2 separate regions of the Homo sapiens genome follow, and region 2 is linked to region 1. The links come from fine-mapping of genetic effects on gene expression. A gene starts in region 1. The other region holds a variant in brackets. All regions are shown on one strand. Distances are from middle to middle.

What was found. PIP is the estimated chance that this variant, and not a neighbour inherited with it, causes the effect. A credible set is the group of variants that fine-mapping cannot tell apart.
Region 2: its variant is the best candidate, but not a certain one, in a credible set for the expression of RARB in lung (TOPMed, PIP 0.83).

The regions. Positions count from the first base shown.
Region 1 is chr3:25,424,011-25,432,405 of GRCh38, forward strand. RARB (retinoic acid receptor beta) reads left to right here and starts at 4,253. Exons shown (of 8, transcript NM_000965.5): 1 at 4,253-4,878. The coding sequence starts at 4,722. RefSeq lists an enhancer at 3,314-4,151.
Region 2 is chr3:25,483,271-25,491,665 of GRCh38, forward strand. The region is part of intron 2 of RARB (retinoic acid receptor beta); the gene reads left to right. Among named protein-coding and RNA genes, the nearest start is that of RARB, 59 kb to the left of the region's middle. The variant C/T (reference allele first, on the strand shown) is at 4,519.

The DNA of each region.
Region 1 (8,395 bases):
GTGGAAAGAGAAAAGTATGCCCTTGTCTTGGGAGAACAATATTTGTGTGTAACCAAGTAGGAAGACTTTGTGGAGGAAAGTCTGAAAAAGCAGAGAGCTGAAGAGAAAAGAGCCAAATGAAGGACACGGTGGCCAACACTCAAAGTAAAAAGACATTTTTGAAGAAGATGTGTTTCTAGGGTTTCTAAGAAGTCGCTATACTCATGCCCAGAGCCACCTTGCAAGTTCATTTGGAAAGTGCATTGGTGTCTTTTGGTATAAGATCCACGAACATCAACAGTCCTGTTATGTGAGCAGGTGTTCATACTGAAGGGCCACAAGCAAAGTTTCCATGTGTTATTACTGTTAGAACTTCCCCCGCTCCCTTCCAACACAAAAGCAGCTCTGCCTGCTAGTATGGAAGCCCTGGGAAGAGCCTCATACTTGCCTCGTGCTGCCAACATCTCTGCCTTGGCTTCCCTGCTGGAACACACAAGTCACTCAGTACTAGCCATTTATTCTTCTGGCAGAACTGTGGCAAGAGGGGATTAACAGGGAAAAAAAATTAAAAAACAAACAAAAAGCCAAAACAACATGAAAGAGCTGGGCATGTCTTTAAAACAATCAGTGTCCACCTCCCCCAGCCCTGTGCCTGTGTCTGCCTGCACTTTGCATGTCTGCCCCTGTGGTGGGGGGGGATATGTCTGCGCCTCTGAAAATCTTCTTATTTAGACATCACAAGGTATTAGCCCAATTTTGAACACAGCCGGCTGCAGTACGGTGCACAGACACGACTGCTCTTTCTTCAGAAAACTCTCCAGTTCAAACATGTTTGCAGAGCATGATTCATGGTGTTTCTTTCTGGATTGTCCAGTGGGTAATTGCTGTACGAAAACCAGAGAAACAGATGTAGACCCTGAACCCTGGCTATAAATTTTTGTTTTATGATTATGGGTTTCAAATGTGCTGTGTCACACTGACAAATATACAGTTACTCTGAAACAAAATGGATTTTACTCTCAAAGTTTTGCTTTTTGTTTTTCACTTTTTGTTTGCTTGTTGGTTGGAAATACATTTATTAGATCATTGATCAAACACAAAGAAAATAGAGATGACACATATCAGAATGTTATTTTATGCCATAACAAGAAGATATTTGGGAAAGTTTCTTCCAACCCTGTGGCTAATGTTTAAAATGGGTGTCAGTAGTTTACATTTCATTACGGACAAATCGGTCTATTTTTCACTTTCTACCCTACTCATTAATCTTTATAGTGCACGGATCTGTATTTAAAGAATTATGGCTTATTTATGTATCTTTCCTTCATTTTACTTAAAATGAAGAATTTGGAGACAGAATCAAGTTTTCAAGAAGTGTAAGCATTTACTGATGAAGAAATAATTAGCATGTGGCTAAATCATGGGTCTGTTTTATAAATTAATACTTGGATTAAGTAATAGCTCTAATTATTGCTATCAGCATAATTAATTCATGATGAGGAATGATTAATTGACTAGCGAATATTGTCATATTATAAGAAACCCATACTATTCCTTTCATGGGGATTTAAATACTGATTATTCATTTCAAGGCCCAAGTTCATTTCTCAGTTGAGAACTTCAAGGTAATTATATATTTTACATTTTCTTGCACAAAGAAAGAAAACATCGAGTCGCCCAACCTTTACCACACACAGAGAGAGACACACTAATGTTGTTATTTTTGTGCAATGATACAGTATAGAGGTAAGAAATTCGGAAGCAGTGGTCTCGCTCAATGAGGCTGATTCCATAGCTTAAGAAATGAGAATGAACAGAATTTTGAGGACACCCATCCCCATCTTCACTTCCCTGGGACCAGTGCATCTCTACTCTTTGGAGAGATGTTAAGCAAGAATGTGCAGCAGCCTCCCCTGGATAACAGATCCCTGTACACACATACCTGTCAGTGATGCCATGTTTCTCATCTCTAACTTAAGTTTCTCCTGCTCTACTTCCAATATAGCTGTTTCCTCTTCTCTTGTCTAACAACTTTTCATCCACCTCCACTGTCCGGTAAAAATGAACTCAGTTTCCAAGGAACTCTAAGGACCTTAAATAAGCATTTGGAGCCATAAGCCTCATGGACCAAGTAGAAATTGGCACATAATGTAGTGCTTTGTGTATCTTTACAACTACCTTAATGACAGTGTGTTAAATGTTTTGTAAATTCCTCTGTGTTCTCTTGCTTAAAATGTGTGTTTTCTTTGTAGTTAAAGGGTTTCTTACAATAAGTCTCTGTTACAAAATGATGGCCATATAAAAGAGAGAAGAGAGGCGCAAAAATAACAAACACAGATTCAGCAAAAATCTCACCCCTTTATTGCCCTGAACTTTTCAATAGCAAGAACTGAGCTTGCTGGGCTGAAAATTGTTTTAATGTACCTTCATAAAAGGATCTTTGACTTGGTAAGTGTGTGCGATGCATACTTTTCATGTTACACCACAAGTGCCACTTAGCAACTCCACTAGACAGGGCAGTGTTTCAGCATGGGGTGGGGTGCCCCCTGACAGGCTTTTAAAAGGCCCGGATGCCAATGCACATTCCAACACTATCCACAAAAAGGAGACTGGAGCAGTGCTCTTCCCTGCATTGGGCAAGGAGACTCTCCCTCCCTGCCTAACCACTTGCCTGCCCTGTTTTGTGGGAGAATTACAAGTAAATGCTACAGAGGCAGTGGAGAAAAAAGGGTGTTTTAATTCCTCTCCAGAGTTTCCTTTATTTGATGTATGTTGCATCCTTTAAACAAGTTGTGCAAAATGGCTGCAGGGTAGATTGGCTCTCCCTTTTAAAGCTCTCCATCCGGCTGGGTTTATTTGTAAATACTGCATCTATCCTTCTTAGTGTTTTAGGACTGGCTGGAAAGACTCTTCTTCCTGTAGGTTGGGTCAGTGTGAGAGATCTAAAAAATCATTTTCCCTTAAAATTACTGTATTTTAATAAAAGGATTGGGCAGGGGCTGGAATGAGAGAAAACTGGTCCTTCAAAATGTAAAACTGTCATACTTAAACCAGTTTACAAAATATGCGTTTAATTATGTGGTGGGATGTGTGTAGGTGTATGATGAGAGAGGCAACCAACATGGCTATTTGGGGTGCAAGGATGTGGGAACAGGCAAGTAATTTTCACATTGGACTTTCATCCTAGGGAGCTGGGTTCTAGTCACAGCTCTGAGCTGTGTGACCTTGGGTAGGTCTCATCTCCCCGGGGTTTTGTTTCACCAGTTGAACAGTATGAGGATGAGTCACAGCTAACATTTGTTCCATGATATTTACCCAGCACCATACAAGTGTTATTTCTGTCCTCCCAGTTAACACTGACGTGGGTAGTATTATATGCCCATTTTACAGATGAGGAAACTGAAGCCTGAAGAAGTTAAATACTTATCCCAGAACACACAGCTGGTAAGTGGCAGACCTGGAATTGGAATCTAGTTCAGTTTGATTCCCCAACCCATGCTCTTGACCACTATACTGTTTTTTCAAGTCCAGATCTGAAATCTCATTTTCTGTGTGGCTGTGTGTTTGGGACAGGGGTAACCAATTCCTGACTACTCTATATGCTGCATAGAACCTGGAGAGGATTTTTCAAAGTAAATGAATCTCGAAAGCTGGATTGCAGAGCAAACGAGTGCAGTCAATTCAGCCAGGGGCTTGCAAGAGGGAGAAAGAGAAAAAGACTGTGGAATGGAAAGTTTCCCAACCCAAGCCTTTCCCAAGGGGTAGCCATTCTCTGTTCTACAGTTTAGGGCTTGCATGTGCTTTTTCTGGAGTGGAAAAATACATAAGTTATAAGGAATTTAACAGACAGAAAGGCGCACAGAGGAATTTAAAGTGTGGGCTGGGGGGCGAGGCGGTGGGCGGGAGGCGAGCGGGCGCAGGCGGAACACCGTTTTCCAAGCTAAGCCGCCGCAAATAAAAAGGCGTAAAGGGAGAGAAGTTGGTGCTCAACGTGAGCCAGGAGCAGCGTCCCGGCTCCTCCCCTGCTCATTTTAAAAGCACTTCTTGTATTGTTTTTAAGGTGAGAAATAGGAAAGAAAACGCCGGCTTGTGCGCTCGCTGCCTGCCTCTCTGGCTGTCTGCTTTTGCAGGGCTGCTGGGAGTTTTTAAGCTCTGTGAGAATCCTGGGAGTTGGTGATGTCAGACTAGTTGGGTCATTTGAAGGTTAGCAGCCCGGGTAGGGTTCACCGAAAGTTCACTCGCATATATTAGGCAATTCAATCTTTCATTCTGTGTGACAGAAGTAGTAGGAAGTGAGCTGTTCAGAGGCAGGAGGGTCTATTCTTTGCCAAAGGGGGGACCAGAATTCCCCCATGCGAGCTGTTTGAGGACTGGGATGCCGAGAACGCGAGCGATCCGAGCAGGGTTTGTCTGGGCACCGTCGGGGTAGGATCCGGAACGCATTCGGAAGGCTTTTTGCAAGCATTTACTTGGAAGGAGAACTTGGGATCTTTCTGGGAACCCCCCGCCCCGGCTGGATTGGCCGAGCAAGCCTGGAAAATGGTAAATGATCATTTGGATCAATTACAGGCTTTTAGCTGGCTTGTCTGTCATAATTCATGATTCGGGGCTGGGAAAAAGACCAACAGCCTACGTGCCAAAAAAGGGGCAGAGTTTGATGGAGTTGGGTGGACTTTTCTATGCCATTTGCCTCCACACCTAGAGGATAAGCACTTTTGCAGACATTCAGTGCAAGGGAGATCATGTTTGACTGTATGGATGTTCTGTCAGTGAGTCCTGGGCAAATCCTGGATTTCTACACTGCGAGTCCGTCTTCCTGCATGCTCCAGGAGAAAGCTCTCAAAGCATGCTTCAGTGGATTGACCCAAACCGAATGGCAGCATCGGCACACTGCTCAATGTAGGTTTATTTTTTTCCCTTCTTCTACCAAGAAAAAAAAAATTGTCTCTCTTGCATGCAATAAAGACGTTGGAAATAAACTGCATTGGTAGCAAGACAAAGGATTTAATGATTTAATGCTGAAGGGGTGTGATATGCTGGCATGCATATTGATTCCCTTTGCTGAAAATTTCCTGTTAGATGTTTTCTTCCCAAATAACCCCTCCCGCCCCCATGCTCCTCTCCTTACCAACCTTATAGTCTCTTGAAAACAGTTTTTAAAATATGCATAAAAATGTGGGGGGTGGGGAGTAGAGGGTGACCACAAGACTTTAAAACATTCTTCAAGTAGGGCAATTTGACACATTTTGCAGTTTTTACTAAAATGTATGCAGAGTGGAATTTAACTTTGCTGTTCTTTGGATTAGCTACTAGTTGTATAGGTCCCCCCACCCCTTGTGTATTCCAACAGTCCAAAGTAATTAAAATATGACATTTTCCTTGAAAGGAATTTAGTTTAATTAAGGTGGCTGCTGCTCCCGAAGTTCATAAACCACCAGTTCAAGCTGCCGCTTCCAATGTTTTCCTTGCTAAGGAAAGGCAATATTTCTTAGCATTGACCCTGCTGCCACCTTTCCAAGTCACTTTGTTGGTCTAAGAAGTTGCTGTTTTGCTAGAAAACTACTGGCAATGAACACCCCTTGGACTGAGCCATCCATTATTTCCATATCTTGCAGTTCAGCCCGGAACGTGGACATCAGTTAAAGGAAAGGAAATATAAGTGGGGTAGCCCAATTTAAAAAAAAAATATTGACTATTTTGTTATCTGATGCTGACACAGTGCCGAGGTACGCACCTGGTCAACAGTAGCCTGGCTGCAGGCTTGAGAAATGATCAGGAGTCCCAGAAAATCCCACCTTCGGGTGGCTGTAGTGGGAGCCTGCAGGATGCTTCGCCGCCCTGACAGTGATTTAGATAAATGGCTCAGCTATCTATCAAAATGTTTTTAGTACTTTATTTGACAATTCATTGGAGCATTAGCCTGAAAATGACATTTTAAATCTTTGTTTTCAAAGAGGTCAAAGTTTAACTGGAAGAAATTGAGTTTTCCTAATAACATGGTGGCTTATCTAAAGAGAGAAGAAAAAGGGGAGAGGGGACAATGACAGGATTTAAATTGCCCTCTCTGAAACTTTTTCTTAAGAATAAAGACTTGCTTCTTGGGCCGGGAAATCAACAGGTTTGTAGCTGAAAAATCAATAACCATTTGATGCCAACAGCCTGGCTGTCTGACTTAACATTTTGTAGAGCCATAAGCAGGGCAAAAAGAATATCGTTTTCAGAAGGCGCCTTAATCTTCAGCTGCTCCCCAAATGCCTTTTCTTTTTTGGTGCCCATTTTATTTCTGGAGAACTCAAAGAAACTGGAGTGTTACAAAATAATTTTCTAATCCAAGAAGAGACTTTTCAGACCTGTCCTCTTTGTAGCAATTAAAACAGTATGAACAATTTCTGTTGGAATCCCAGGGAACTGGGGCTCTCTGAAACTTTTTCTTGTTAGAGAAAGTGGTAATGAAACATGTTTTTTAACAGAAGGAAAAAATATGCTCAGGATCCTCGCCAAAAGTTATTAGACCTAATAGAGTTTTTACATGTAGACATTCTTCCTTTTGTAATTAACCTTCCAAAGATGCCTATTAAGTTGTAAGAGTAGGGGGAAAAGCTTTGTTTGTTCTTGGACAAGTTAAACAAGGGATTTGCTTTATCTAGGGAGAGCGAGCGGTGAATGTGTCATTCGCCTAAAACTACCCGATAAGCAAGAAGTGTTGATAACAGCAAAGTTTAGCTAATCAAAGAAACTTGCATTAGACAAAGTAAATAAAGGCATTTGACAAAGGGATTTCAGAAATTCCAGTGTCTTATTTTTGTAAGCAGGGCAATTAGTTCTTATTGTGGTCAGTTTCACAAGAGTTTGAATCCCACACCCCAACTTTAGGTTAAATGAATAAAATGTAAATATTGCTTGTGCCCTTGCAGAGTTGCTTTACCCTCATAAACCACTTTATGATGGTCAGTTGTTCCAACGATTTTTTTTTTTTTTTAGCATAAATAAAACTAAAACTTTTTTTTTTTTTTTTTTTTAGAGATTCTAACAAATGTCTTGTGCCATGCAGTGTTTGGTTCAGGGTGGTACAGCTAGTTAGGGCTATTGAAATAAAAGTATATTAGGGCTACATTTGTGTAAGTAAGAACATAACCACAACCTTTTCCATTTTACTTAATGGCTATTTTGACGAGAAGCAGATCTGTTTTTGCTTTTAACACAGAGGAAACAGTGGGCAAAGAAGAAAAAGTACTAAATTCCAACCAAAACTATTTTCTGCTTTGAGTTTTTTTTATGGTGTGTGTGTGTATGCATAGTAAATAAAGTAAGACCTTTGAACATGGAGCACACCATCACAAGCTCACTTTGAAAGGTGTTAAAATATTCCCTTTATTTTCTTTTTAATTTTAAAGGCAGAAAAATGATATGCCAGCCAGCTGCCATTTGTAGTAGTGTCTGTGAATTGCTTCTTATAAGCATTCAAAGTCAGGATTAGGGGACTACTAAGGGAATGTGGTCTAAATATTACGATTGACGACTGCCCCTGGAAGGTATAGGAGTCACTAAATTTCTGTTCAGATGTCTCCAGGATTATCTTGGTTTTAGGCGGCTCCAGATGTTTTCAACATTAATTGCTCAGTGGGTATAGGATAAATCTTAATATTTTGTGGTCTAAATATAGTTGCTTTGGTGAAATAACGAGTGTGACAACTTCTTGGCCTTTTTCCCTGTCTTTTCTCCCTACTCAACACATCAAAAGGAAAAAGAAAAAAATATTTTCTTTTTGAAATAGGACTTTGCCCATTAATGAGAAGAAATTATTTTTAAAACAACCAGTAGTGATGTTTGATTAGGGAATGAGAAAAGGCCTCTTTTCAAAGCCCTGGGACCCAAATTTTAAGTATTAAACAGTATCTAAATCCTCTCCTAGTGAGATATAAATTGGGGTCAAAGTGGCAAAATCAAAGATACCCTCTGAAAGAAAGACTAAATAAAGACTGACAGCCACCGTATGAATTGAATGGGGTTTTGAATAAATATTTCAGTGAAAAGGCCCAATTGTTTTTCTAAAGTAGGACATAATTTTCTGCTTCTCGGGCACATGACGGTGGTAACTAATACCATCAGAAAGAAGAGAAAAAGAGGGACTTTTCCTTAAATCGCAAAGAGAGTACAGGCAGGGTTGTGGGTTGTTCGAAAACAAGTGAAAGATTCACAAAGTTTTCCTTCCTTGTAGAAAAAAAGAAATCATATTGTGAATATTGGATAAATTGGTACATTTGACAAGGGAGTGAGTATTGATGTGCAACTTAGAAAAGAAAAAGCATGTGTTTAAATTTTATTGCCAGAAAAGGATGGATTCAAAAAACTAAACAGTAGAAAGGTAGACATCTGTTTGCCTAAACTTAAGCTATGGAATTGACTTGGAAGCTTT
Region 2 (8,395 bases), 59 kb after region 1:
TAATTGGTAGAAATTTTAGTTGAAAAAATATGTGTACATATATAGTCTTCACTAGTTTATTTAGTTGAATTAACATTTATTTGAACCTAGAAAAAGAATCACACATACTGTGGTAGAGGATGTCAGATGATAATGAGAGAGAACTTTGGAATTATTTGAGGACAAGAGTGATTCCATTTGAGTGACTTAAGCTTCTTGACCTCTAGACCCTGGTTTTCTAGATCAGAAAGTCATAAATTTTAAAATCATATTTCTTCTTTTTTTTTTTTTTTTTTTTCACTCAAAAAAAGAGAGTGTGTGGCTTTAGTTCCCATAGAGCTTCTGGTTCAGATGGTGCAAATGAAGCACTGGCTTTCTCAGCCTTGTTTTGGTAGCATAGGAAAACAAAACAAAACCCAGAGATAAGAGCAAGGGAGACTGGAGGATGTGATTATGAGTAAAACTTCTGGGTGCATAATGTCAGCAGCACAAACTGTGTTCATTCTCCATGTTAGTTAATGGCTAATCTAGAGATTGTACTGCCATTTGCTGATAGAGCACAGTTTAAAATATTTTATCATTAATGTGACAGGGAGTCGGATAAAGAAAATGAAGCGTGATTATAAAATGCTAATTATCGTTCTCAAGTGCATATTGGGCACTCACAAATATTTGCAGCGTAATTTGCTTTATTTATTATTTCAGTTTGGTTATAAATGTTAATTCAATTGCAGATGGTATGTTGGCAATTTACAGAGCTATAAAGTTATTTGGAAATCCTAATATTTTCTACCAAAATGTTCCGTTAGTGAAGGATGAGCTAAATTAAAAACTCCTGCTCTTTAGAGTTAAATACATTAATTGGCAAGTAGGCTGTAGGGATTTCCAGATCTGTGCTGGCTATGTTAACTCCTTAAAGGAGGGAAAGACATGATTTCTAATTTAGAGTGGGAATTTTCTTTATGAGAAAGGGCGAGGAGGAAAGAGGTGTCTTTTTCCTACCACCCTTGTAACATTTCTTCAAGGCTGAGGTTTTCTTCATGTCCTGGTTCATAGCAAAAGAGACATGCTTGAAGCCACATTTTTTCTGTAGTACATCAATAGTTTCTGAGACCGTGATGTTGATAATTAGGGTGTATGTGTACGTGTGTGCATGTGTGAGAGAGTGAGAAAGAGACCGTGTTTTCTCCAACCTCGCTGATTACTACAAAATATACATATGTTTTAGCCAGGGGTTGTCAAATTATGGCCCATAGGCTAAACCGGGTCTGCTGCCTGTTTTTGTATGGCCAAGAGCTAAGAATTTTTTTTTACATTTTAAATGCTTGAAAAAAAAATTAATATAACATATGAAAATTATATGAAATTCAATTTCAGTGTTTATAAAGTTTTCTTGGTACACAGCCAATCCATTCATTTCTGTATTGTCTATGATTGCTTTCATTCTGTGATGGTAGAGTTGAGTATTTGCAGCTAAGTCTCTGGCCCACAGCTTAAAGAGTTTCTATTTGGCCCTTTATAGAAATCTGCCAACCCCTGGATGAGGATATTTAAGGTGTAGTTTACAAAATGGAAGCTTTAACCTATTTTTTTTTTAACCTCCATTGTCATATTTATGGAAACACACGAATGCTGGAGTACAACTGGGTTTAAAACATGACTTTTCATTTTTGAAAGCTGGGAAGGTTATAAATATGAGTCTTAGCTTCCTTCATTTATAGTCATATTAATAATTGAAAGAAGTGATATTATATTACTAATGTAAATAATTTTGTGTTTCACACACACACGATACACTCAAAACACTCTCTTTGCCTCCAAAATAAGGATAAAAGTAAAAATTATTTTCTTTTACTGTCAAATTAAAAACATAAACTAAGCTGTGTTCCTGGAATATTCTATTTGTGTTAACAATTAGGAATTGTACATAGAAGCACAGTAATATCAGAAAATGTGGCCACCTTATATAACTCGTTTGGAAAAATGTCATTCTTTACTAAGAAATACTGTGCTTAATTAATTCTTGCTCCTAGGAGGTCAACTTGGGGCACTCATTATGGCCTTAATTGGTGATATAAATCCTCAGACCCCAGAGGAAAAACACATTGAGTGGTTAGTGGTCTCTGGCCTTTTGGGTGAGTGTGCACTGGTGCCAGCCTCATCTCAGAGAGTGACAGCTTCTGGTTTCATGGCTTCAGGTCTAGCCCCACTCATATTAGGTTTAAAGGCCAATGTGCAACAGCAAATAAATGCAATAACTTGTCCTGGTGTTTTGCATTAAACAGTGTGAGACAACCCACTACCTTCAGACTTGGAAAAATGTGTTTCTGTGAACTCCGGTTCTTTGTATTAAATTATATTCATTACACGGCCCATCTGGAGTCTCCTGCCAGGCCAAAAATCATCTTACAGACATTAGCAAAAGGAAGTTAAATGTAATTTTTTTTAATTGTATACTTTTCATTTCCATTTATTTTTTCCCTTTTATTGGAGAAAGCAGATGGAAAGGAAAGCAGGATCCTCTCTCACTCTGGTTCCCTTCGGGAACAGAGGCAGAGCATTCCTGGCTGCTGCTCCTCTCACACGTTGGCTTGAGGTGATGATGGGGCTGTCTAGATTCTGGGGATAATTGCTGGAAAGGTCAGGAGTTCAATTTGAAGCTCACACTGGTTGGGGTTGTGGAGTTTGGAGGGTAAGAACAGTGCAGTGGCTTACATTGGGCTTTCACTGAAGTGGGTTGCCACGAATTATATTTGACAGTGTGGAAATGAAACTCACAAATATCAGATATGATGCAGTTCCATTTTGTGTCTGGTTATTGACTTGAGTATTTTGCTGGGAGTTGTCTTTTTGCTGGATTTTGAGTCAATGCAAAAAGGGCCCATATTTGGGAGACTGGGCTTTCTTTAGCTCGTTGGATCTTACCAAACCAGCCATGTGTCACAAAAGGTATAGAGCTAAGGCTTATGTTGGAGACATGCTGAGTGTGTGTTCCTTTAATAAGACACGTGGAAATCTCAAATATCAGTGCTAGAAGGCATGTAGAGATCATTTCAGACTTGTGAAATGGAACTACAGAAATGGTTCAACTGTTTGCTTAGAGTACAAAGCCAGTTAAAGGAAGAAAGTAGACTAGCTTAGAGCCCTTTGGACTTCTACTTGGGTAGAGGTAGAAGTCACTTAAGCCACCCTACAGCCCTGGCAGAGGATATTTGGCCAACGAAGTCACTCTCCCATGCAACCTTCCACCCATCCATGTGAGCAAATACTTACTGAATGCCAGGCAAGGTGCTGGATTTGGTGCTGAGGATACAAAAAGCTAGAGTTATGACAGGTCTTCAACTTAATAAACTACATCAGAACAATTCTATAGTCATTATCTGTATATACCCTACCATCATCTGCCACTTCACCCAAATGAATTGCTAAGTTGCTGAGTTTGGAAGGGTCTTTTAAATTCGGATAATGGTGAGGTACTTTTTTGGCTACATTCTGATATATCCAGCACATATATGCATTTCCTGATGATGGTCTTCACGGACAATGGGAGAAGGGCTAATTTTGAATTTCTAATAATGAATCCTTGTATCCCTCTGTATAATTTTATTTCAATCAGGTTCCAGTCACAGATTATTAATTTTATTATCTAAGTATATTCTTCTTACTCTAAATATTTTTCTTAGATTAGGACAAGGTTTGGATTAGGTCAAGTATACCTATGATGACCTCTGATTTACATTGCTTTACAACACACCTGAGACTTGGAGAGGAGAGAGAGGAGGGATGCTGGACTAGTTCCCCTGCTCAGTCACACACTTTCTCTCCTTTTGTGCTGGGATGGTGATGTGAGGTGTCTGGTGTCCCTGATGCAGTCAGCTAACAGCTTCCTTAAGAAGCCTGGCCCTGTGCTACCCTCAGTCGCGTTTGACACAGTAATAGACACACATTACAGACGTAAATAGCAACTCCAGGTTTTCGCTTCCATGGAAGTGTGTTAAAGTTATGTCCACTAAATGGGTTACTTTGGCTTTAAATAATAGACCCCATTGCTTCTCTGTTCCTCAGCGTGCGATGTGGTTTCACCTACCACTCTCTGCTTTCAACAAAGCAGATAAGGTATCAACACAATTAAAAGTGAAAAATAATCTGTCTGCTTTGCCGGTAGTGAATGCTTACAGAACACACACTGATACAATAGATTTTAAATAATTTATGTCCGGCACTTTTTTTTTTTTTTTCAATCTGTAAATGAGGACACCTAATGCGGAATGGTCGGCATGATACTCTATCCTTCCCCCATTAAGATAACAAGATGAGAGGCAATGATTCAGATCAGTATATTTTTGGAGCTTTGAGCGGATAAAAATTAAAAATTAAAAGAGATGATGTTCTGAAATACTTTGGGTAAGCAAGCTCATAAAAGCCATTTGGAAACCTGAAATTACACATTAATTCAGAATCTCCTTCTGAGGGGCTCCTAAAACACCTTTCTGTTTTCTTGGCAGGATGAAAGCATTACTTTTGTGTCACTGCCTGGTG[C/T]TTTCACGGGGTCTATTCTAATGCTCACTAAGGCGTCATGCTCTGTTCTAATGTGCCTCTTGTAGCCATCTTTGGTTTGAACCAACTAAACTTCAGGTGATGTTGAAAACAAATAGGAATTAATACATGAAGCTTTATATCTTCCCTCTATAGATATGTTAAATCTCAAGTTACCAGGATAATGTGATTCATGGCTTATTTTCCAGCCTGGAGGGAGTGGTTGGTCCAATCTGGAGGGATTTATTCAGCTGCTATAACTACTGTTGACAGTATGGGGAATTGGCCCCACAATTCCCCAAAGTCTAGGGACTGTGCTATCCCACAGAAACAAAACTGCTAAGCTGTTAACAAGAGGTGGTTCAGATCTTTGGTGGTTAAATGTAGTTTAATCATGATTTACGGGGGCCCGGCTCTTTTTCCTACACCTGCCTGTGAACATCTCCTAATTATTCATTTGAGAAAACTCTGAATAAAAATATCAATCTTGAATATGTGTGTGTTCCGAGGAAGAAGGCCAGCCATGTCCAAGGAAATGTTCAGTCCTGTTTCATCTAAGGAAAATAATTCCCAAATTTCATCCACAGGCTGATGCTTAGGAGAGACTGAAGTGCTTTTGGATGAGTTCAAAATAAACACTCCCTCCTAAGTTATCTCTTTTGTCCTTCTGGAGAAAATGAGAAGGGTAAATGACGTTCCATGGAATGATCACCTGAGGAAAGCAAAATTAGGCTGAAACACCCCCAAAGCTCCTAGATGAGGCTTCCTGGCCTGGGGGCAGGGTCTGACACCCCATCTTTTGGAGTGGGTTATAGCATCAGGGACCACCATCCGTTAACAAGCCCATCCTGGGCAGCAGAAAGCTTTGTGGGCCAGATGGGAAGTAGCCACTGAGGAGAAAAATGTAATTTTGATACAGGAAATAGAAGAAGAACAGTACAGCTTTTCACTCAAGATATATGTTTCTTCTGTCTAAAGCCAGCAATTTTGGAAAATGAAGCTAAGAGTTTAAAAATAAGGGCTCTGTCAGGGAAAATAAAACAGGTCCCCCTACATCCATTAGGCTGCCTTTAATTGAAAACTGGAGAACAATCTAACTAATTGGCAGGTACCTCTTTTATTACGGAGACTGTTTTTCCCCTTCTCTCCAGTGTAATCAAAAGGCTGCTCCTCTTTTTATCAACTAAAGTCAGGTATGAAATGGAAAAGCAGAGAGGTAACACTTAAAAAATTAATTGTGTGTGTTCTGTTAAATGTTCTCCTACAAAACAACTTCAGAAAGTGCACAGCTTAAGGTCTTTGAAACAGCAGCAGCTCCAGGAGTGTATTTTCATATAGCATGGTGCTTAGGTGGAAGCTATAATGTGCTAATTGCAGACAAGTTCATGTTGTTTAAAAGAACTTTTTCTTTTGCATTGGGGACCTATTTAATTTCAAATCTTGGCACTGTGCTGACATAATATAGCTACTTTAATTTTAAGGATCAAGAAAGAGGAGCCTGTGGGTGAAATTTGAGCCTATTTTTTGCTAATTTGGAATAAATCAGTAAGTTAACATTGCTGCCTGAATTTATGATATTAGAGTTTTACCAATGAAAATATAACTTCCTTCTTCCTTTCCTTGCATATAAAGTATTTTGGTTTAAATTTACATTTCTTTGCTGATCTTCCTTTTCTTCCTTTTCCTTCTACATGGAATATCCATATGATATTATTCTTTAATTATAAAAGTTGCATATACTCCATCACAAAAAAAGATTGTTACATCCCTGCCTGCAAAGGACTCCGGTTTCAAAGAAGAAAGAGACACAAAGATCAATTGTTGCACTGTTGTAGAGAGAATGTTCCAACAGCATATGCTGGTAGTGGGGGCTTGGCGGGAGCCTGACCCCTCTTGGGGGCTGTATTTTGGAGCATGAGCAGTCCTGAACCAAAGAACAAGGCAGGGAAAGGACTTTCAAGTCCTAGGGCCTGTGGAAAGGCACTGAGCAGAGAGAAAACACTCTAGGTTTGGGGGGCCTGGGTAAGTATGACTGGACAAAGGCATGAGCAACTTTGAGGGGCAGGTGGGCTTTAAACCATTTCATTGCTGATCTCAGTGTGTAGAGGTCGATACTCTTAGCATTATCAGGCGTCAGCCTGGACTCACCACAGCTTTTCCATACAAGGACAGAATCCATTTTGAGAGCTGGAGCTTAAGTAATATTTTCTCAATAAACTTAGTGAGATTTTTGCACTGTCAGAGCAGTGTCTGTGGTGAAGAGAAGCAGAAGGCTACATCCAATAAATCCCTGTTATTTTTCAGTTGTCAGACTTGACTTAAATGTAAATGCCTGACTAGCTTTCCTTCTCCCATTCTCATAGACTCTATGAGTTTTTCCTTTTTACTCCAGGTTCGGGATGGAACCATGTATAAGCGAGAAAAATTCCAGTGAGAAGATTCCAACATGGCCCTGAAAATTAAATAGACTTGGAAAAAATGCACCAAGCTCTAGACAAGCATTTATTTTTCTGTACTAATTTAGGTCCTTAACATTATAAAGCAATACAAGTACATCATAATTATTTGGGTCTGTGAGAGGCCTTTGAATTATGCAATATGCAGCATCGCCATGGTGATGTGCCTTGCCGTCAACCAGCATGTTATGGTAGAGCCATGTTCTGGTTTTGTTAATGGCCAAATGTTGCATACCAAACTTCTAAAAGAGATTTTAAAATTCATGCTCTTTGGTAAAGGGTTTCAGTATATATGAGCATGTTTTGGCTCTCTCTCCTTCTGCTTACCTTTTTCTCCCCCGCTTCTCAGTACAGATGAGAAAATTTAATTTGGGTCCAGATGAGATTTAGTAATTAATGTACAAAGCAGCTGGGGTCCGCTAACTCCTGGGCTGTAGCTGAGCAGCTATTTTGTTGCATTTTTTTTTCAATAAAATAATTGAAAATTTAAAAACTTAAAATTCATTGGCTTCTTGCCGTGTTATACTTAGAGTAATCCTGATAATAGATCGGTAACTATGGATTTCACCAAGGAAGGGCACAAAATAACTGACCTAAGTAATTTAGAAAACAGATGTCTTTAGTTGGTTCAAATTCTCAGAACCAGATTTAAAGAAAGCATGTGGAGAAGAGCGAAATCTTGCATTTTAGAGGCTTCGTTTCCCCTTGTCATACAGTTTTTCTTCCTACCACATCTTAATTCAAACTCTTGAGAAGAGACAAAGTAGTCCGCAAGATATCATATTTATGATATTTAGCCTACTGCACAGAAATTCTTTGGGTAACTACTCAACCTCATACTCTTCACCTTCTTTTTAAGTCACCTTTATTTCAGTGGCTTCCAAGTAGTGGTCAGAGACACCTAGGGGATTTATAATGAACTTTAAGATATCCTCTTGAAACCGTGCGTAGATATGTGTGCTGTTTCGAAGGAAATTTTATCTAGTTTCAAAGAAGTTCTTTGTGTTCTTTTGGCTTCTCCCACTCCCCCTGCACCCCCACCCCCAAGTCCCTTTTACACTACAAAAATAAAGCCCAGTAGTAAAACATAAAACCCCTCCTGTAAGGTTTTTCTTTCTAGCTTTTACTCAGGTCGTGGAATTTCTCAGAGGCATCCCAAGGGGATCCTGTGGGAGAATGAGTGTGATTACAGTGAACTACTTAATTCTGTCTGATCTACAGTCTTTAAACATAAGGTCAACCAGAAGAGAAGAGAGACTATCCGAGACTATCCAAGACTGCCACGTCCTCATAAAGGAAAAAGAGATTGAACACTTTTGCTGTAGATGGTATTCTGTAGCCTGGACTGACTACATAATTTGCAGGACTTTATACAAAATGAAAATGCTTGTCTCTTATTCAAAAATTATTTAGGGCTGGGCGTG